Linked DNA regions of Homo sapiens: regions 2 and 3 are each reported to be linked to region 1. The links are microRNA targets in miRTarBase. Many come from high-throughput screens and were not tested one by one. Region 1 holds a microRNA gene; each other region holds the end of a gene's coding sequence.

What was found. The annotated mature microRNA hsa-miR-1207-5p reads UGGCAGGGAGGCUGGGAGGGG and lies in region 1 at 2,605-2,625, shown strand. An mRNA with a match to its seed (bases 2 to 7 or 8) in the 3' UTR can be bound and repressed. Matches are read on the target gene's strand: a 7mer-m8 pairs with bases 2 to 8, a 7mer-A1 pairs with bases 2 to 7 and ends in A, and an 8mer does both.
Region 2: miRTarBase lists CTDSP2 as a target of hsa-miR-1207-5p. Seed matches in the 3' UTR shown: 7mer-m8 at 5,794-5,800, 7mer-m8 at 4,194-4,200 and 7mer-A1 at 3,833-3,839.
Region 3: the mRNA of CPLX1 is a reported target of hsa-miR-1207-5p. Seed matches in the 3' UTR shown: 7mer-m8 at 1,142-1,148, 7mer-m8 at 1,767-1,773 and 7mer-m8 at 1,847-1,853.

What each region holds. Positions count from the first base shown.
Region 1 is chr8:128,046,555-128,054,066 of GRCh38, forward strand. It overlaps MIR1207 (microRNA 1207), which reads left to right and starts at 2,598; the gene lies at 2,598-2,684. The region is part of intron 6 of PVT1 (Pvt1 oncogene); the gene reads left to right. RefSeq lists enhancers at 1,677-3,793, 2,313-2,858, a silencer at 1,941-2,124 and a cis regulatory region at 2,737-2,989.
Region 2 is chr12:57,817,074-57,824,309 of GRCh38, forward strand. CTDSP2 (CTD small phosphatase 2) reads right to left here. Exons shown (of 8, transcript NM_005730.4): 6 at 7,154-7,236; 7 at 6,831-7,016; 8 at 2,854-6,654. The coding sequence ends at 6,529. It overlaps AVIL (advillin), which reads right to left and starts at 1,661. Exons shown (of 20, transcript NM_006576.4): 1 at 1,556-1,661.
Region 3 is chr4:780,283-787,518 of GRCh38, reverse strand. CPLX1 (complexin 1) reads left to right here. Exons shown (of 4, transcript NM_006651.4): 4 at 821-2,562. The coding sequence ends at 1,018. It overlaps LOC124900163 (chloride intracellular channel protein 6-like), which reads left to right and starts at 5,671. Exons shown (of 2, transcript XM_047416474.1): 1 at 5,671-5,747. It overlaps PCGF3-AS1 (PCGF3 antisense RNA 1), which reads left to right and starts at 5,670. Exons shown (of 3, transcript NR_171661.1): 1 at 5,670-5,747. RefSeq lists enhancers at 1,537-2,408, 4,403-5,120, 5,121-5,837, 5,838-6,555 and silencers at 5,382-5,731, 5,832-5,911.

The sequences.
Region 1 (7,512 bases):
CATAGTTCTAATCTGTCATTCTGTTGCTCTGGAGCCTACACAGCCCCCCATCGCATCTGGAGGGAGAAGCCCAGCTCCTTAGCACAGCACCTGAGAAATACCCTTTACAGTCTGGCCACTGGCTGAACATTCTTTCACTCTCCATGCCACACTGCTCTGTGAGTACCATCTGAAGGTCCTCTCCCTTTTCTCTGTCTTCTAAATGTTCACTCTTCAATATCTAACTCAAATATCCTCTTCTCTAACTTGTCCAGGAAGAATGAGTAAGGCCCTTTCCTTTGTTCCCCAGGCTCTTAGTTTCTCCATCTCTAATCACGTAGATTACAGCCCTTTCTTTGGTTTTCTCCAGGGGACCAAGGAGTGGGGCTCTGCCTTTCTCATGTCTGCTCTGCCTTCACGGTCCCCCACAGTGTCTTCAGTGGATGGCCAACCTCTCATGAACAGGATGTCCTCTTGTCTGAGGTTCTACTTTGTTCCAGCCATGGAGTCATACTCTCTTTATCTTTTGACTATCCAAAGGTGTTCTGTTGGACGACTGATGCCTTCCTCCAAGGTACTTTGGGCTCCCAAGTGTGCAGTTGACATTTGCTGTGCCTTCTCCACCAGGCTTTAGTTTTTGATGTATGCTGAGCTTCAGTGGAGATTTGCTAGCCTTGGGCTTTCTGTGTTCTTGAATCTCTCAGAGTCCAGAAGAAAAGGAAAGCTGACACTTTCTAGGAATGACCTGTGAGAAGAGAGGTTGGTGTCTTGCTGCTAAGTTCCGCTTGATTCTGAACTAAGTCACCATGGGCCAGAGGAGGCAGGGATAAGAGGAGTGGTTTCTTGGCCACCAGAATGGAAACGTTTTTGTTTTCTTGTGTGCTTTTGTGGAAATGGTGGCAGTTGCTCACTAAAGAGAACTAAAACCCTTTTACTAGAGCCCCACCAGGTCTGAAGAGGATGGGCGCGTGGGAGCCATTATCTTGTAAAGGACGCTATTGAGACCTTGCTACTGCTGCAGTGAAGAGCACAGGAAAAGCCAAGCTTAAAAAACACTGGGCGAATCCTAAGAACTTTTCATGCAGAAACACATGCATGATGAGAAGAGAATCTTCATTACAACATTGTTTGACACAGAAAAACGAGACTCAGCTTAAATGCTCATTAGTTAGTGATTGGTTGATTAAGTTGTGATAAAATGGAACACTAATACAGCTGTTTAAAAAATTAGTAAAAAAAAATCAGTATGTGAGATGATGCACCTGTTAATTAACTCAACTTAGCCATTCCACAATGTATACATCATTCAAAACTTCACATCATATATTATAAATATATACAATTTTTATTTGTGAATTAAAAATTAATCTAAAAAAATTAGTGGCTATATGAAGTAATTGGGAACAATCTTGAAGCTATATTAACTACCAAAGAGCAAAGTCAACCTTAACAATGCTGACTTTTTAAAGAATAGTGCCTAGAACACTGTGTGGAGTATGCTAACAGCTACACACTAATGCACAGCCACCAACCCCAGATCAGTTACGTGAACTTCTGCATTCACAAACACACTTAACACACTCTGTGGCTATTGCCTCTTTACTGACCTGTAAGTCAGTTCTAGAAGACAGACGATCCATGAAGGCAGGTCCTAGCCTGCCCATTTGCATTGGTATCTCCAAGGCCAAGCTAGAGAAGGCACACAATAGGCTTTCCACTAATATTTGTGAATGAATGAATGAACAGAGAGAGGAGTTTTCTTTCCACAGTTTCCTTCTACCTGCTACTCCTTGAGCATATGAGGCTGGAATCTAAGCCCTGAGGTCACTCACTGCTCTCCTGGGTACTATCCCTGGCCTCCCGTCCTTTTCCTTGAGCTTCTGTGCTCTGCAAGGCTTTCTCATTATCCTTTAGGCTACAGAGAAACAAGGAGACGGGAGAGCCTTGAAATGGACCTTCAAGATTACAATGTGTAGCTGACATTGTCAGTTAAGTTGGGCAGATCTGACTTCGCTGATTAAGTGGATGTATGAGCCGATCCTCCCCAGAAGCTGGGATCAGCTTCCCCATCTGATGGTGAGTCAGACCTGCTGGGGTTTGGGTCCTCGCTCCAGCATGGCTGCCTGTGTGACCTTGGCCACTTTACTTAACCTTGCTGAATCTCAATTTCCTGATCTGTAAAGGAAGCTAAAAATGCCTCTCTTGAGGTTGTAGTGAGGATTAAATGTGATAGCATAAGTGAAAGTGCCCTTTGAAGAAAGAGGAAGGCGAAAGCGCTTATTGTGTCAGGAGAAATGTGTGGAGAGCCCCCTGTTGTTCTCAGGTGTCTCATCCTTCCCAGGGAAAAATCCCCATGCCAAGTCAGAAGAGGTTATAATTTGGCTCTTACTCTTTTATTCAGGCACTTCTTTCGGCTGCCCAGGGTTTTCAGCTTAAGCAAATAAATTACCCTTCTCCACTGGACTCTGTGTTCTGCAGCCAGCCATATGTTTAAGCTTGATAGAGATTTTTATCTGGCTTGGTAATATTACCCAGCAAGGGATGACATTTCTTATCAGAGGCCCTGAGGAATCAGAGATAGGAGCCCTTTCTTTTTCCTGGCCGCCAGGCCTCCATGTGCAGGGCTGGCAGGGAGGCTGGGAGGGGCTGGCTGGGTCTGGTAGTGGGCATCAGCTGGCCCTCATTTCTTAAGACAGCACTTCTGTTAGCTGACCTACACAGAAGCAGGTCATTTCGAGATGTTTGCGTCTTGGAGCCACTGATAGAAGCAGGGCAAGGGAGAGTGAATGAGGAAGGAAGGCGGGAGTGTGATGACGCATGCCCAGCTTTGCGCGGAGGCAGAGCACTTGCCTGTGTGGGGCCCTGCCCTTCTCTTGAGAGGCAGGCGGGCCCTAGCTGCAGCGTCAAGGTCTGGGGATTCTGTGGCTCTGTAGGGTGAAGGGCACTGGAGACCTACCAGGGGCTGGGCCATTGGAGTGGTGGGTGCTGGGGAGCTTCCGTGGGCCCCTCCAGGTCCACTCCTTGCTCTTCTCTGCCTTGTTTTGTGCCCAGAAGGCTGACCTGTGTGGATGCATTATCAGGGTGGATGCAACACAGGGCTGCCATGCTCTCTGGTATCAGTTTGGAAGGCACTGGCAGGATGGGAAGGCAGGCGGGGAGTGAGGTCAGGGGGCCTATCCTTCCACTGCCTCCCTGCTGCTCCCTGACTGATTCAGGTAAGGTTTACACCGGGGCTCTAGGTTTGAATTTTGATTCTGGCATGTACTTGCTGTGTGATATTAGGCAAGTGGTGGAACCTCTCTGTGCGTCCGACTTCTCATCTATAGTAACGCTTTTGCATTCCATTGATCTCTTTGCCTCTCATTTGCCCTGAATGCTGAAGGAAAGGACACTGCTGTATCCCCTGAGGGACTGTCTGAGCCCAAAGTACACTGGGGACAAGGGCTTCAGGGTGGGCAAGGAGATGACCGATGATCACGTGATTTGGAACTATAGCCTCCATTGGAGACACGTGCTCTGGGCTCTTTCCCTCCTGAGTTTTGGGAAGTCCTGGCCTGTGCAGCCTAATTCTCAAGTACTAATCTTGCAATCATAAGAAGAGGAAGGAGAAGTGGTTTTCCCTCTCCCTGGACCCATTCCAGCCAGCAGTTCCTGACTTTGCTTCCTTCCTGTTGGTGCCCACTCTGTTTCCTTCCATCCCTTCCCCAACCTCTCCCATCCCATGCCTCATGTTGGGCAACTTGAGTTTAACTGTCTCTTCTTCCAGTGGCCAAGTCCAAATTCTGAAAGCACAGTTCTGACCATGTCCCTGTCCAACTCAAAAACAGTAGCTCCGTGTCACCCACAGGCTTGAAGTCAGACCTCTCAGGGGGCATTAAGTCCACCGCAACATCACTCCAGCCTGTGAATAAAGACTGAATGCCTCCGAGCCTCTTATGTGGGGAATCAGTTCTGGTAAACAGGTCTCACTTCTTGTCTTTTAAACACTACTTGCTTTCCTTGACGTCTGTGCTTTGATCCCATTGTTTTTTCTCCCTTGGATGCCTGAGAGATCCATGGGCTCTGGCTTCAGAGAGTGCTGGGTTCAGACCTCAGCTCCAACAGTTGCTGGCTCTGTGACCCTAGGAATGTCACCTCACCACTCCAAGCCTCTGTATCCTTGACATTAACCTGGGCTGATAGTTCCTACCTGCAGGGTTCTTGTGAGAAGAACCTGTCTAAAGGCTCCTACTGGGGCTTGACTTGTCAGATAAATGAATGGGGTTTTCCCTAACCTTCTAATTGACTACCCCACTGATTATTCAAACTCCACCTGTCCTCAAGTTCCATTCCATCATTCACTTCCTCTGTGGGTTTTTCTGCCACAAAGTCATCTTCCTCTGTTTGAAAGACTCTTAGTTCCTCATGTATGACAGCAAGAGTGGACCTCATCTCTTTCTTTTTGTGTCTGACTTCCCAGCACAGTCTCAATTTCTTCAGGGCATTGACTGTGGTGTAAGATTCTCAGCTTGAGCACTGGAACCATTTATGGGACGATTGAGTATTCAACTCCAAGAGAATGAAAGAGAGTCACTTGTTCTTTCATTGAACGAAATTGATTGAGTGCACATGATATGTTGTGTCTGTGCTTCACACTGGAGTTGTAAGGATGCATAAAATGAAGATTCTGTCTTCACATAGCCTATCATCCAGTGAGGAGGTTGCATTATTGGGAATCTGTGCCAAGCCTGGATTGCATAAGACATAGGTAGCTGAGAACCTGGTGCTGACTGGGGACTGGGGGAAGTTCTGTGCCCAAGGAGAGGAGGACTCTTCCCTTCAGATGGATGCCCATAATTTTATCTTTAACTTTTAAGAATTTGGCTTTAATGTGCCTCAATGAAGACCTCCTTATGTTTAATAAATTACAAATTATTTGGACTTCATGGATTGAGATGTTTATTTTCCTCTCCAGATTTGGAGAGTTCTATGTATTTTTTTCTTTAAATAAACTTTCTATCACCTTCTCCTCTGCTTTTATTCCTCCTCTTGAGTTCCCATAATGTGTATTTCAGTTCACTTGATGGTGTCCCATAAGTCCCATAGGTTTTCTTTTTCATTTTTTTTTCTTTTTATTCTTCTGACTAATTTCAAATGGCCTGTCTTTGACCTCATTGATTCCATCTTCTGGTCGATCAAGTCTGCTGCTGAAGTTCCTTATAGAATTTTTCAGTTCAGTCATTTTGCTTTACCACCAGAATTTCTGTTTGGGTCTTTTTTTATGGTTTATCTCTCTTTGTTGAACTTCTACTTTGTTTATGTATTGTTTTTCTGATTTTGTTGTTTATGTTCTCTTTAAGTTGAGTTTCTTCAAGACAATTATTTTGAATTCTTTGTCAGACAATGTATAGGTCTCAATTTCTTTAGGATTGGTTACTGGTGCTTTAGTTTGTTTTTTAGTCATGTTTCCTTGTCTATTTGTAACCCTTGGGGTCTTGTGTTGATGTCTACATATTTTAAGAAGTAGAGATCTCTTTTATTCTTTACCAATTAGCTTTGGCCAAGAAAGCTGTTCACCAGTCAAGATATTTTGGGTGGATTGGCTGGCAGGGTCTGAGGGCAAGTTTACTGCTGGAATTCTTAAGCGGGCTGGCCTGGTGCCTGAGTCCATGGGTACAGGCCTAGATTCTGGGTCCCTGGGGGCCAGACTGGCACTGAGATACAGTGGGATGGCTTTATTGACTGTGTTCATGTCTGTAGCATGCGTCTGTGAAGGCCAACCTGGTACTAGGATCTACACTGATGTTGGGTGCTTACTTCACTCTCCTTCCTCCACATGAAGGGTTTCTCTCTTCATGCTGCACTGTGCTGTCTTGGGGGAAGGGTGATGTGAGTGATGTGAAACTCTTATTCCTACCCTTTTCAATGCATCTTTTATTATTTCTATGCTCCACCCAGCTGCTGTAATTGCTCATCTGGATTTCTTAGCTCTTGTGAAGGTATATTTTTCATGGGTGGTTGTTCAAATTGCTGTTTCTATGAAGGGATAGACACTGGAGACTACTATTCTGCCATCTTGCTCACATTACTCTTCTCTTCATAGTATTATTTAAAATGATACATTTAGTTTTGTTTATTTCACATCTGTATTCCTTCACTAGATTGGGATCCTGTAAGGGGAAGAATGAGGTCAATTGTGTTTACCACAGTCATAACAATAAAAACCAGTGCTGTTGTCACACTATGTGCAGGGCACAGTTTTAAGTTCTTTATGTTTACCAAATTATTTTATCCTCATTAGACCCAACTGAGATATACTGTCACTTCATTTTACAGATGAAGAAACCAAGGCACACAAAGGCTAAGTAATGTGGTCTAGCTCTCCTATGAAGACAGTAGATGGTAAAACCAGGATTTTAAACCTCACAGTGGCTCCAGGATTTGTGTATCTAACCACTCTGCCAGACCTTTCTAGTGCTTTCTTCTAGTAACCACCCCAGCAAAGATGCTCAGCAAATGGGTGGTGCATGAAACAAAGGGTCATTATCCTATTTCTTGGGTAAGTTCTCACTGCAGTTTGTGCTCTGGGCACAGAGTTAACAGCATAGTAAAGAGGAGGGGACCTGGATCTAGGAATTTAACACAGCTAGATTGAGATCTGAGCTCACTCATCACTAAGTGACTATGAGCAAAGTGTTTAACTTCATTAAGTCTTGGTTTTGTTAGATCAACATGGAAGAAATGCATTAATAATTTCCTATTAATCTTACATTAATGGTGGAAAAAATGAGAGTATAGATTATAGTGGGTGCTCAGACAGTGTCATCTGCCATCTTGGAGGGCTATATATACATATATATATACACACACACACACATATATATGTATTTTATATATATTGTATATATAATACCTATATATGTGTATTTTATATATATGGGTATTATATATATAGGTATTAATATATATAGGTATTATTATCAGCTTTAGCTTTTTCATCCATGAGATGAGAATTTGATGTAGTCCTGCCTGATGTCCACACAGGCTCCTCAGAATGGCTTTGTTTTACTAGAGATGTTACCCCTAGGAAACAAGCTCAATCCCTTGCCCCTCAGTGGACTAGAGGCAGCATGTTTATGAGACAGGAAAGGATGTGAGTGATGTGAGTTTCTTAGCTGGCTTTGGAACAGAACAGAGGCTCTTTACGATGATGCCAGTGCTCCTAATTAATTATCATAACAAGTCTCCTGTTCTCAGCATCTGTCAGCAGGTACAGCTGCACCAGCACAGTGGACTGGCTGAGCAACCAGAAGGGTTGGGGCAAGGCCAGGCCAGGGCAGCCAGCCTGTATCTCCAAGTGCCCAGCTGGTTCCGTCCTTGTATCTGACAGGGCCCTCTGATCTTCCTGCATACAATGGATTGCAGGGAAAAAGAAACTTCCTGGCCTGATTGACACAAATTTGTAGGAAACAGCTGCCTTTAGTGGGGACAAAAAAGCAAAATCCAGTGTGAGTGATAACCTCTTGCCAGTCTGGGTTCTGGGTTGCATATCTG
Region 2 (7,236 bases), not on the chromosome of region 1:
ACCTACCCATGTCCAAGGCCACGTAGAGGCTTTATAGAATTAAAATACCTGCTCTCAAGGAGCTTGAAATCTGATAACATGCATAATTAATGTAAAGCTAGATTAATTTCTCCCAAGAGGCAAAGGAAAAAGGATGGGGTTGATGGATTTATGTAAGATTTAAAAATTCACCCAGAAAGGACTGTATGCATTTTTGCTGTTTGGGGACATACTGTTTGTTAAGAGGAACATGTCTGACCATTGTTTTCTTGAACCTTGATGGACAAAGCCAAGTTTGGAGAGCATGCGCCATCTAGTATGGACTTTGGCAAAAAACCATAAAGCTCAAAGCAGACTCGCTTTGTCTACTGCTGTAGCAGGACTAAAGCAAGGCAATGGTGCGGAGCAGCCAGTGTTTGAGAATTTAATTTGATAACTTGTGCTGCCCCACCCTGTGCTGCTCAGAATTGCCAGGAAATATGGTGTTTGGGTTTTCTTCAGACCCTACGTAGCAGTCATTAAAGGCAAAAGCCATGAGCCAACTAGGGGAAGGGGACAAGGGCCACTGAATTCATTCCTTGGAGACAGAGAACTGTCACCCTGGTAAAAGCCAAACCAGCCGGCAGCAATTAGGACTGTGAGCCTCAGAGGCTGAAACCTGTCCCGTTTCCCAGCAGGAATTTAGGAATCAAGGAGCTCCCTGGGCCAGGCACCCCGAATGCGAGAGGATAAGCTCCAGGAAGGGACTTCCTGTCACACTGGAACACACAGAAAACACAGTTCTGACATCAAATCTCCCAAAGCTGGGTCTCTCCTTCTCCCTAAATCCTAATTCAGTATCCTTTGAGAGGACTGCAGAAACCCCTTGGGTGTGGGGCACAGTTTTGAAATGTCAGGTTAAAAGCCAGTGGCCTGTAATTCTCAGAGATGCCCTTTTGGACGGACCCTGAGCAGAGGAAGCTGTTTTTTGTTGTTGTTGTTTTTGAGACAGGGTCTTGCTCTGTCACCCAGGCTGGAGTGCAGTGGTACAATCACGGCTCACTGCAACCGCCACCTCCTGGGCTCAAGTGATCCTTCTGCCTCAGCCTCCTGAGAAGCTGAGACCACAGGTGTGCACCACCATGCTTGGCTTTTTTTTTTTTTTTTTTTTTTTTTTTTTTTGTAGAGACAGGGTCTCACTATGTTGCCCAGGATGGTCACAAGTTACAAACTCCTGGGCTCAAACAATCCTCATGCCCTGGCTTCCCAAAGTGTTGGGATTACAGGTGTAAGCCACCTCTCTGGGCCAGGAAGCTGGTTTTAACTCCTCCTGCCTTGCTCCATACCATCTTTCTCTAGGGATAGGTGAAAGGGGTCTGTCTTTCCCAGCTTTTGAAAATGTGCCCTATATGTTCAGCTGCCTCTAAGGGGTTCTTCTGAACAAGAAGTTTGCAAAACTGGCCAGCCAGACTCCTGGTTCATTTTAAAAGCCTCATCTCAGAAGACAAAGCCAAGGGACTCTCAAGCTCCTCTTCCTTTCATTTCTTCCTCATTCAGGAGGATTAACTGGCATGCCCCCGTAAATCAGAGACCTTACCTTGCCTTCTCGCTCACCAGCCTTCCCAGTTTCCCGGCGCGTAAGCAGCAGCAGTATTGAAGAACCACTCCAAAGCAGGAGGCTCCAGGTCCTGCTGCCTTAGCTTAGTAATGGCCGCAGAGATACTGGGTTATATTTGCTTGTGTTTGCATCTTAACCGCATTTTCCTAGTCCTGGCCAATCAGAGCCAACCTAGCACTGAGCTTGGCTTATTCAAACCAGAGGGAAAGCTTTATCTGTGCCTATTCAAAACAGCAAAACAGAAGAGCAGACTTTTAAAGGCTTCTTTGAACTCCAGCTCCACGCCCTGATCTAATTGATTTTTTAAAAAGTGCACACAGCCCATCAATAATGCAGGAAAGAGGTTGGAAGGATATGAAATTTGCCATATTGTAGATATGGATGCATTATGGTGATGACAGGAGGAAGAGGCTGGAGCTGCCCCATGAGTGCCTGTGATGTCTAGGTTGGCAAGAGCCTCCCTAAGAAGCTTCTGGCATTTCTCAAAGGGAGGGGAAGTCTGGGAGAGGAGCCAGAATTTTATTAGGCCACAGTTTTGCTCGTTGGGGTCTCTACTAGTCATACAGTAAACCAATCAATATTTGAGTGCCTGCTGTTTGCCAGGAACCATGCTGGGCTCTCAGCTTCAGGGTTTCCAGTTTGGAAGAATCAGTGAGGGGCAGAGAAGAATCAAGACTCCATTCCCAGGGCTGGGTGTGGTGGTGGCTCACGCCTGTAATCCCAGCACTTTGGGAGGCTGAGGTGGGTGGATCACAATGTGAGGAGTTTGAAAACAGCCTGGCCAAGATGGTGAAACCCCATCTCTACTAAAAATACAAAAATGAGCCGGGCGTGCTGGCAGGCGCCTGTAATCCCAGCTACTCAGGAGACTGAGGCAGGAGAATCGCTTGAACCTGGGAGGTGGAGGTTGCAGTGAGCTGAGATCATGCCACTGCCTCTAGCCTGGGCAACAGAGCAAGACTCCATTTCAAAAAAAAAAAAAAAAATAATAATCCATTCCCTTAGGGCTTCTGGTTCATGCCCAGAAGTCAATAGGACATCAAGCATATACACGTGCTAAGCACCTGACTGCAATGGGGTTGATCACAGCAGAACTTGTGTAACCTTGAGCGGAAGCCCTGTGTGGCATCTGCAGCTGGCCTCCCGGTGGGTGCAACACCCCACTCAGCCCGGGGGTGCAGCTGCTTCATGATGGAAGGGGTTGCGAGAAGAAAGGCGGTGCTTGCCATGGGCCCAGTGAACACTTAAGGGCCAATGAAGGTTGGTGGCAGCTCACATTCCTGGAAAGGTTTTTTAAACCCACTTTTATTAATTAATTGTAAGTAATACAAATATTCCAAAAATATAAACAGACACTTAATGGCGTCCTGCATTTCAAGTTTTTGAATACAACAAATTTATCAAACCATGAATCTGTAAGCAAGGTAGTCAGAATCCCATAGCCCAGTCACAGTGGGAAGCAGATCCCCTACCCTCCAAATGGCATCTTGAAGGGGGAAAGCGGCACGAAATGGAACATGATAAGCAAAAAAGCTCACGAGGCCCAAAGAGGAGGGTCCGCTCCATGGGCAGGCCCTACAACGTTAAAAGAATGGGGCAGCTGGCCCGACCTCTGGCCTCCTCTTCCCTGGCTGAATGTAAATATTTACCAGCATTTAGAAAAAAGGAGAAAAAAGACAGAACTAAACCCGTTTAGGAAAAAGGGACCGAGGGACAGCAGTGGTTAAGTAATCCACTGAGGACCTGAAGGGGAAAATGGACTTACCTTTCTCATATACTTGGCCTGGCTAGGACACTGGGTGCCAGACAGCCTTCTGAGGGGATTTTCTTTCTAAATGAGGCCTCAGGAACAGGTAGGGGCAGCAGAATAGAATAGCATCCATTTCCCAGAGAAAGACTGCCTTTACATTTCCCATGCTTTTAGCACAAAGCAGCGTCTGGGCCACTGTTACCAGAGGTGAGTTTATACATTTACAAAATGCTTAAAATCTTTGGGAAGCAAGAGGAAGCTAAACAGAAGGTCCCATGTTAACTGAAGGCAAATTCACTCAACCTCTCTAGTAAGGGACCCATGGGCCTACAGAGTGTTCCCTCTACAATGTGCAGAGTGGAAACCCTTACCTGACCCTTTTCCAAACTGGTCCTGTGTCCAAAGCTCCCCCTATGAGAGGGACACGAACATCAGGCTTTTGATTTAGAAGCCCAATCAGAGAGACACACTGTGTCCCTGAAGAGGCACCTTAAAAGAACTGAACCTGGCAGGTAGGCAGATTCCTGGCATGGCTTGAATTGGTGCTGACCAGGCATGGTGGCCTATTGCCTCCCAAAGACCAGTCTCAAGTGGGAGGGGCTGATGGTGGGAAGCCCTAGAAGAGAGTCTGGGATGAAGCGGCCTCCTCCCTGTCTTGCCCTCCAAAATTGAGTCTGGCCTGATTCCTTTGAGGAGCAAATTTTACAATCATCCCTCACCCTAACACACGGTGAAACTGGAAACCCGACAGCAAATAATGACTAGGCTGGCTCTGGTCCACAAGAACAGACCCTGGCTAGGTTTGGCCGAGTAGCTTCTCTGGGGCAAGTGGGAATGGCATTGTTGGGGGGGAGTTGCAGGTGGGCAGGCAGGGTTCTGATGGGAGTGAGGCCTAAAAAGCAGGGGCTTCATGCAGATGCAGCAGGGACACTCCCACCAAGCCATCCTGGGCTTTGGTCATGGGTCCCACGCCAAGCACTTGGACAAGTCTGTTAGGAAAGGGGGTGGCACATGCTCTTCCGCCATCTGGAAAAACATGGAGATCCAAGGGAGGGCGGAAAGGGTCCTTGCAACTCAGTCAGCTTAGAGCCTCTTATTGCTTATTTAGTCAGAAAAGCCTGGCTGGGCCTAGACGGCAAAAGATTTGGCCAAGGGCTAACCCTTAGGGTGGGGCTTGGAAGAGAGGCCCCTCCTGCAATATTAGGATAGCAGCCTAGGTCAGGCCTTGGGTCCGAAGCCACAGCTGGCTCTAAGAGTCTGAGCTCCTGCTTTCCTTCAAGAGACAGTATATTTCTGGCTAGCACATGGGGTCCTTCTCCCTTTAGGTACACCGGGACCCCATAGGCACCGGGGAGTGATGCTGGCGGAAATGGCCACATGAGTTCTGGGGACTCTGTTCCACTTTATGATTCCAAAGAGAAAGACAAGGCCTTATAACCTTGGGACAAGAAGGGAAGGTGGCACCACAACGCTAGAGAAAAATGCCAGCCAGCCACCGCTGAGAGCACGAAGCTGCTGCTCTACTACCTGCTTTTCTCAAAACTTGTTAGTTCCTGAGGCTGGATCTAGGGTGTGGCAATGGAAGGGATGATGGGGAAGAGTCCTGAGTGGGTGGTGTCCCTGCACCTAAAGCAATTCACAAATGCTTTGTGATACCTGCCTCCAGGGAACACAGAGATGGGAACAGGAGCGCCCTCCCACCCCAGGAGGAGGGAGGGAGGGAGGAGAGAACCCCACCCACCCCAGGGAGGCCACGATTAAGGCAGTGATGCTGAGGTGGGGCTCCTTTTTGGGAGGCCCCTTGTGCTCCCAATTACAGCAGCACTTCCTCTTATTTTCCACCCTGGGAAAACTTCCATTTCGTGATGACTTTAATTTTAAAGCATTCACTATTAAGAACCTTTGAAAGCAGGAGACACCCAGAGTGCAGGTCTGAGGGGCTCACTCACTCCTGTTACCAGAGGCAGAAAGCATGCGCATTAGGCTGGCAAATGGCAAGAACACTCATTCCCCCTCAGCCCAGGAAGAGCAAGAGTTCTGAGGCCCTTAAGAGGAAAAGCAACAGCCAGGAAGGATGAAGGCTGGAACAGACAGAGCTCGGTACAGGACAGGCCCTGGGGGAAGACACAACAGGAAAAGAGCCCTGCCCAAGAAATGGGAGGGGCTGGGACAGCTTAGTTTTTCCCAGCCTTTGGAACAGAAGTCCTTGCACCAGCACCAGCAGAGAATCCCTGAAAAGCAGACTTATGGAAATGATCCCGAGCTTAGCTGATCCACAAGCCATGGGGACACACGTCCACGCTTTGAGGATTTGTCTTTTCCCTGCAACCCCAGCGCCGCCGACATTCATTACAGGCCCAGGACTGTAACTTTGTCAGAAACAAACCAGGCCCAACACTCTGTGTTTAGAAAGAGAATTTTAAAACACAGTCAAAAGAACGGAAATCAGTTATCTGTCCTCTTCCCGGGCAGGGAGAAAACCTCCTTCCCCACAGGTTTGAGACTATGGCTAGGTGGTGAGGAAGGCAGGCTCAGCACCCCAGCCTTGGGGAGACATAGAAAAGGCCTATCCCAGGCACTCAGCCGGAGGCAAGCATAGCCTTTGGGCCACAAGACCTGATGGCCACTGGATGCTGGTCTGGAAACAAGTTCTCATCTTCCCAGAAATGTGATCTTTTGTCTGCAGCAGCTGGCTGGAGAAGGATTTCAGAAAGGTGTGTGCCTGGAGTACCCAAAGGCATACCCTTCCTTTATCCTTGGCATAGGCCTTACAACACTGAGGAAAGGCCATGGTTTGGCAATGGAGTCTTCAATAGTCTTCATCCCTACACAACTCAGTGGCTCTTAGGGTGACAGGAGAGGAGACAAGCTAACTTGGGAAGAGTCTTGGTCTTTCAGCTTCTCCCCCACTGAAACACTATACACTGGGGCCACAGTTCATGGCAAAACACACACACAAACACACACTCTCTCACAGTCAAACACACATCTCAACAAGTTGGCGGCAGGTAGCTCTGGGTATCATTGGTCTGGCATTCGCCCACTCGGCATCTAAGCTGTCCTAAAGCTCTTTCCAGTTACTTCCCGCTGTTTCCGGGCCGTGTGGTGAGGCACTCCAGCTTCTACTCTGTCACGCTGATCGTAAAGGCACAGTGTGGGAAAGTCCCCTACTGGGATGGCCGTCGCTTGGAAGCAGGGCAGGCTAAGGGGCCCGCAGCTGCCCAAGGCTGGTGTAGACGTCCTCTGCTCCGCTCAGCTCCTCAAAGATTGGGATCAGGTTCAGCAACTCAGTGTCTGCCATGTCATCAAACCAGGACTGCACAGGCACCTGGTGGGGGGAAGATGTGGTGTCAATCTCCCGACTGCTGCTTCCCCCTCCCTCGCCCCAGAGCCCTAGAGGGTGGCTGGGTCTTCCTGGAGGGGTGTACTTCTCTGGTGGAGCCCACAGTTCCAGTCTGCTTCCTCTCCCAATCCCTACCGTGGAGACGCATCAGGAGCACTCACTGCATTCTCGGGGTGGAATATGTAAGAAGCAGGCGAGTTGTCCAGGATGAGGGTCTTTCTCAGGTCCCTCCCCAGGCGGCTGAGGTCCTTGACGTAGCAGCCCTGGTGGAACACGCAAGACTCACGGAATAGGCGGGCCCGGAACACCCCACACCGGTCCAGCAGGTCTGTCACAGGGTCGGCATACTAGGAGGAGAGAAGATGCCTTAGTTTGGATACACTCCTGGTCCTCCTGTATAACCCTAGGGACCAAAAGGGAGCTGCTGGACCACCCCCGTGGCCACCACACCCACTCCTGGTTCTTCCCTCTCACCCCTAGGTACCTTGGCCAGGCTGGCAGTGAAGAGAACACATTCAAAGAGTTCCCCCATGCGTCTCAGGAACTCATCCACATAAGGCCTCTTGA
Region 3 (7,236 bases), not on the chromosome of region 1:
TGGACTTGAGGCCCCTCAAATCCAGGATGGCCTCGTCCCCATCCTTACCATTATGAGATCAACAAAGACCTGTTTCCGAATGAGATCACCTTTGAAGCTCCAGGCAATATGAATTTGAGGGGGACAATATTCAGCTACTACGGAGGGCAGACGCACTCACGGGAGATGAGAAACGCGGGTGGGCAGGGGGTCGGTGAGGCCCAGGCATACTGGCTGAGGGCACGACTAGGCGGGATTCCAGGACACCCAGTGCCTGGAAGTGACCGCAGCCCAGGACCCTCTGCCGGCTGCCCACGGAGCTGCAGCGGCCTGCCAGGGAGTGGCCCTGCTGGGGCCGCGGCCGCATCCAGGCAGCCTTGGCCAGGCCCGGGAGTGTGAATGCAGGTCGTGGACCAGGCACTGGGCAGGAGGGTCAGCTGCGGGTTGACTGTTTCTCCCCACCTCTGCCACGCAGCATCCTGCCCACCCCTCCCTGCCCCGGGCCGGAGGCTTCCTGGAAGGCAGGATGCCAGGGGCTGGGCTGGGTTTGGAGCCAGAGGTGGGGCCACAGCCCTCTCTCCTCTCAAGGAAGATGGGAGCCTCCCCCTCCCTGCTCCCCCCCATGTCAGCTCCTGGCCCCCATTCTCCGTGGGGGCTTCCCATTCCTCCAGGGACCCCCCGGGGTGGGGTCTCTTCTCCTTCTGGGGTCCTTGTGTGCCTGGTGGGGTAGGGGGCCGCACCCACGCCTTCGGGGGTTCCTGGGCCAGTCCCTGGCGCAGGGAGGCTGCGGCCCGCCCGGGAGCCGCCGGGACCCCCGCCCTGACCCCCGCCTCCCCCGCAGTACGGCATCAAGAAGAAGGAGGAGCGCGAGGCCGAGGCCCAGGCCGCCATGGAGGCCAACTCCGAGGGGAGCTTGACGCGGCCCAAGAAGGCCATCCCGCCGGGCTGCGGGGACGAGGTGGAGGAGGAGGACGAGAGCATCCTGGACACCGTCATCAAGTACCTGCCCGGGCCGCTGCAGGACATGCTCAAGAAGTAGCCGCGCGCGGGACAGCGGCCCCGCGGAGCCCCCGCCCCTCCCCCTACAGATCCTCCGCGGAGGCCCCTGAGGGACGAGCAGAGCGCAGCCCCCACGCCGATATAAGCCATAGCCCCAGGCCCGCCCTGCCCGCGCCCGCCGCCTCCCTCACCCGGCAAGGGGCGCGCGCCCCCAGGACCCCCCCAGTCCGCCCCGTGCTCCTCTGCCCGCGGGTGGCTGGAGCCCCATCGCCTGGGACGCCCCTTTCTCTTGCTGTTTACCGCCCACCCAGCAGCGCCCGAGGCCAGGGCCGCCGAAGGGCAGCCCCGCGACCACCCCTGTGCGCGCGTTCGCGGCGGTGGGCGCCTGTCGGGCCCGCACTCAGGAGCACAGCCATAGCAGACGGGGGGCTGCGGGCGGGGCGAGGGCGGCGGGGCCTGGGTCCCCCTCCTGCACGCGGACTCCGGGGTTCGGATCGCTCCGCCGTGAGTATTTGCGTCCGCACGCGGCCGCTCTCCGCCCCCCGGCCTGGCCCCCTCGCGCCCCTGTCCATCCGTCTCTGTCCGCGTCCTTTCCTCTCCTCTCTGGAAGGTTTTGCTTCTTACGAACGCCACGGCCGTGTTCACTTCTAAACTAAAGGAAACAAAGCAATAGGTTTGGGGGACGCCCAGCCCCCACCCCCGTCACCCCGCTCTTCCCAAGTCCTCGCCCCCCGCCCGGCCTCCTAGCCTCTCCGCCCACGCGGCTGCTGCTTCTCCCTGGGGAGGACCCCTGCCCTCGGCCATTGAACACTGCACCCTCCACAGGAGCCGCAGAGGCCCGAGGCACCGGACGCTGGAGACCCTGCGCCCCTGCCCAGCACCTCCTCCGTGGGCAGCTCCTCGGGTGGGGCCTGCGGGGTTCCCTGCGCGCAGCTGGCGCGTGTGTGGCCTAATCCACCTGGTGGCCCTGCGGGGCGGCATCCGAGCCCCTGTTTCTCCTCCATTCATGTTTAATTTGCATCACAATTTGTTGAATCTCAGGTAAATGAGGTCTTTGCATTTAATGAGTTTTATCTTGACAGGCGCCGCCTCGCCCCCGGGCCCTTTCGTCCACATCAAAAATGCATCAAGTCTCCACGTGTTTCGGGCCAGGGCGTGGCTTGGCATTGACCTTCATGACCTTACATAGCTTTAGAGAAGCCATAACGTTAGACTGCAATACTAACGACCGACGCCCCTCCGGGCAGAGACCACCGCGCCCCTCTGCGCCCCAGCGACGCGGCCCGCGGGGACGTCGCTGTCCGTCCTGCTCGCCCTGTGCCCTCTCACTGACTTCTCCCGGGTCGTGTCTTTTAAAAACTCCTGTTTTCACACCTTACAAAGCCAGCTCTGAGCAGACAGGGCGTCCTCTCGTAGAACCTGCGCACCCCGTTCCCAGCGCATGGCGCCCCGGGCCGCGAGCTTAGCTTAGACCGTGGTGTCCTCTGTCCGTCTGTCCTGCGCCTGCGCCTCCTCCTGCATGTCGGGGCCCCTGCGTGTGTTCTCTCCGGATGGAATCACAGCCAATAAACACCAGTGATTTCACACCGTGTGGCCATTCCTTCCAGAGGTCCATTTCGCCAGCCGGAGGACCGGGGCTTTCCCCCGCGCATGTTCTCTCCACGGCGGCTGCAGGGCCTCCCACCATTCTCACTCAGCTCCATCCAGTCAGACCCATTTTCCCTAGGCCGTCCAGCCAGCGCAACCTCCATCTAAACACAAACCTGCGCCTTCAGGGTCTCCCGCCCCCCAGGGTGGTTCTTCCACCCGCAAAGCATCTGCCCTCTGCTCTCCCTCCCACCTAGGACCCCCGACCACAGGCCTGTCCCTCTCCTCAGCTCCACCGGGCCCAGGGCCCCAGGTCACCCTGTGCTGCCCTTACCTCGGCCCACCCAGGAATTCCTGCCCCCCAGCACCCCCGTGGGACTGTCCCTCCTCCTGAGTCCTGGACCCGGATCCCTGCAGGGAAATGTCTGCCAACCTGGGCTGAGGCCAGAAGAGGTTCCTGACCCCAACCCAGAGAACAGCCCCTCTGCCTGGTTGCTGGCGGTCCCGCCCACACTCAATCCGCTGGATGCGCAGCCCACGCCTAGCTGCTGCCTGCCACTTGCTTCCCCAGAAAGTCCTTGTTTGACCTCCAAGTTTGGAAGCTGTTAAAAGATGATTCTGGCCAGGTGCGGTGGTTCAGGCCAGGTGCGGTGGTTCAGGCCGGGCGCGGTGGCTCACGCCTGTCATCCCAGCACTTTGGGAGGACGAGGTGAGCGGATCACGAGGTCAGGAGATGGAGACTATTCTGGCTAACAAGGTGAAACCCCATTAATACTAAAACTACAAAAAAAAAAAAAAAAAAGCTGGGTGAGGTGGCAAGCAACTGTAGTCCTAGCTACTCGGGAGGCTGAGGCAGGAGAATCGCCTTGAACCTGGGAGTCAGAGGTTGCAGTGAGCCGAGATGACACCACTGCACTCCAGCCTGGGCGACAGAGCGAGACTCCCTCTCAAAAAAAAAAAAAGAAAAAAGAAAAGAAAAGATGGTCCCGTGACACTTGTTACAGCTGAGTGAGGAAGGCTTTATTCAGGACCAGCACTACAGGTACAGGGACCATGCAACAGGGCTTGCCATGGGTGCCAAGGAGCAGGGTGGGCTCAGTGGATGGAAAATGACTGAGGAACATCAGGGGTTGGGGGATTCTGATGAAACCCATCTAACTGGATTCTAGCTGGAGACAGGCAGGGCAATCAGACAGACCCATAGGGTGGTGAAGCATGAGGACCCCAATCAGATCTCCAGGATGAAGGTTTGTTGCTAAACTGACTTAGCCAGATTCTTTGCTAAAACTGCATTTTACAAGGAAGTGGGCCAATGGGCCTACCAGAAGATTCAGGAAGTTAACTAAAGTTTGACCACACAAAAAATCTTTGTCAGGAGCCCTCTCTAGGGAGCAGCATGTCTGGGTCTCCTGTAACCTTCCTGATGCTGCTGGCTGGGAATGCCCCAGGGAGCTGCCCAGTCCCAGGGCAGGAGGGCCCCATGTGCCCTGACCCCAGGCCGGGCCCTCCTGGATGCCAGGTGGGAGCTGGGAGGGAACGTGCTCTCCTCCAAGCCCAGGGAAGGGTGTATCCAGCTCCTCCTCCTGCTGCCTCTGGGGAAGTGTGCACCCCAGGCACCACCAAATTGCCCAGGGTGATCTCTCCTCTGCCAGCTGGCCCCCCTTCCTCCTGGAACAGAAACTCAGTGTCTTTGCACCCACCCCTGTGTCCGTGGCTGCTGCCAGCTGCCCCTCAACAGGGCACCCCAACATCCAGCCACTGCTCAGCCTCCATCCTCCCCCAGCCTCCCATTTCCCATCCACAGCCTGGTCTGGACCCCCTTGCAAGCCTAAGCAGCGACTTGGACGTGCCAGGTCACGACCCAGGCAGCTTTCCCTTGGAGTCTTTTTTTTTTGAGACAGAGTCTCTCTCTGTCCCCCAGGATGGAGTGCAGTGGTGCGATCTCGGCTCACTGCAAGCTCCGCTCCCAAGTTCACACCATTCTCCTGCCTCAGCCTCCCGAGTAGCTGGGACTACAGGCACCCGCCACCACGCCCGGCTAATTTTTTGTATTTTTAGTAGAGACGGGGTTTCACCGTGTTAGCCAGGATGGTCTGGATCTCCTGACCTGGTGATCCGCCCGCCTCGGCCTTCCGAAGTGCTGGGATTTCAGGCGTGAGCCACCGCACCCGGCTCCCTTGGAGTCTAGACGAGCCCTTCCTACAGCAATGAATGCTGGGTCAGACCTGAGCTTCTCCGGGATCCAGCTCTCATCTCAGGTGACGGGGTCTGAGGCCTCCTGGGAATGGCACTCCTCCCCAGATGTTTACTGAGCCCCTGTGATATGCGCTGCTCTGTTCTAGGGGCTGGGAATACTAGTCCCTCCCTCCTGGAACTGGTTTTCCTAGTGATGGAGGACAGATGATAAACATGGAAGTGGCGGTGTTTGCCCTGGAGGAAAATCAAGCAGGACAGGGAGCAGAGAGCAATGGTTAGGGTTACTATTTCATGAGTGGTCAGGGGGCCTCTCTGTCAGAGTGACGTGCACAGACCCGGAGGGAGGCGCGTGTCCCGTGGGAGAGCATTCTGGGCAGAGAACAGCCATTCGAGAGCCAGGAGGCAGCGCTGCCTGGGTGCCACCAGCGTGGCCCTGGCCCCATGCACTGGCTGGGCACCACCCTGCCCCCGGAGTCTCCTCCTTCTGAACGTTTGACTGTATCTTGAACACAGCGGGGCCGGCTTTCAAGCTCCAGACACGGCCTCCTCCCCAGGCCAGGAAGCCCTGTCAGGCAGCAGATCCGGCCCCCTCAGCAGATCGGCCCCTCCAGAAGACCCGCCCCTCACAGCAGATCCGGCCTTCCCAGCAGACCCGCCCCCCGAGTAGATCCGCCCCTCCAGGATATCCATCTCCCCAGCAGATCCGTCCTCTCCAGCAGAACCGCCCCCAGCGGAGCCGCTCGGGCGGGGCCTCCGGGCCTGGGGAAGGGAGCGGGGACCGGGCCGTGGAAGGACCGCGCCCGCCCCTGGCCAGCCTGAGCCAATCAGCGCATGCTAGGTGGGCCGACATGATTGGCTCCTAGAGGCTCACGTGTGGAGGCCTGACCAATCAGAGCCCGAGAGACGCCATTGCAAGCCTCTGCAGAGGCGCTGGAGCTGGGTCAGTCCGCCGCTCACCCCGCGGCCGCACCTTCCCGCCTTCTCAGGTAACTAAGTGCGGGTCTCGGGCCTGGCAGAAGCTTCTTCGGCCCCGTGCCCTCGCCTGGCCCCGCCCCGTCGGTTGTGTGCTTGTCTCGTCCTGCCCCCAGGCCCTGCCGGTCCCCACCGTTAGGCCGGCGTCCCTGCCCGGCCCCGCTGCGGGCTGGCGCCAGCTCAGGAGGACGCCCCGAAGCCGAGGCCTCGGAAGCAGGTTTTTCCCAGACCTTCTCCTGTCCCGCGTTCCCCCTAGGCCGGCCGTAGGGACCAGACCCCACCCTAAGCCCATAGCCGGCCTTCGCGCTCCGGGTGACCCTGGCTGGCCCTGTTTGTCTGTGGGTCCTGGGATGCGCCACTCCCGGCAGGAAGGGGCGCCGCCGAGGCCCGGTCTCAGCCTGGAACCCCGCTCCTGCCGTCGGGGCGCTTTCTGCGGCTGCCCACACACGACCCCAGGCAAGGGGTGGGGGCGCGGGACCCTCCATGACATGGCGGCGGGGCGCTCTCACTTCTTTGAAACCAGCGTAAACTGGACCCGCCCCACCTCCCATACCTTGGGGGAGCCCCGGGAAAGGCTGTGGCCTGGGGGTCTGCAGGGCGTTGGCAGTGGAGGTGGGGAGAGACCCCAGCCCTTTCCTGTCCCCCCCACCAGCCTTGCCTTCCTCGCCGTGAGCCGGGGACAGTGGAGGGGAGTCAGGGAGGGCCCACCAGATGGACTTTCTTGTGACTCATCCTATAAAGCCCCTCGGGCTTAGCCACCCTCCCCAGGACCCGTGTGGTCTCCCGGACTGTGCTGGAAGCTTAGAGCCAGAATGACTTTTCCACCCTCGGGCTGGCTGGCTCAGTGGGCAGCAGGGACAGGGGGCTGTGAAGAGAAAACTCACTCGCCAGGGTCAGGGGCCGCTTGCTCACTGAGGAAAGCAGAGGGGTTCCTGCCGCTTGCCTCAGGAACAAAGCTAGTTGGTGAGGCACTGCCTTGCAGTTGTAGGAGAGGAATAATGGCCCCCGTGGGTGCTTGGTTGGAACGATTAAAGGAGAATAACAGTTTAGCACGATTATTTCACACAGTTGTTCAAAGAGATGGCTTTGAATTCCAGCTTACATGGCGTCTTCAACAAAAAGTAATTGTTTAGAGAAGTGACAAGATGAAGGAGGACTCTGAGTCCTAGTCTCCCTCCTCGAGTCCCTGTGTGAGCAGAGGTAAACAATGAAAACTCACCAACCAGGAGAAATTCACCTAGGACTGGCGCAGAAGGTATACACCATGAGCCTGGAAATGATTTAAAAAACAACACAGGCTGGGCGCGGTGGCTCACACCTATAATCCCAGCACTTTGGGAGGCAGAGGCGGGCGGATCACTTGAGGTTTGCGAGTTGGAAACCAGTCTGACCAACGTGGAGAAACCCCGTCTTTACTAAAAATACAAAATTAGCCAGGTGTGGTGGCGCATGTCTGTAATCCCAGCTACTGGGGAAGCTGAGGCAGGAGAATCCCTTGAACCT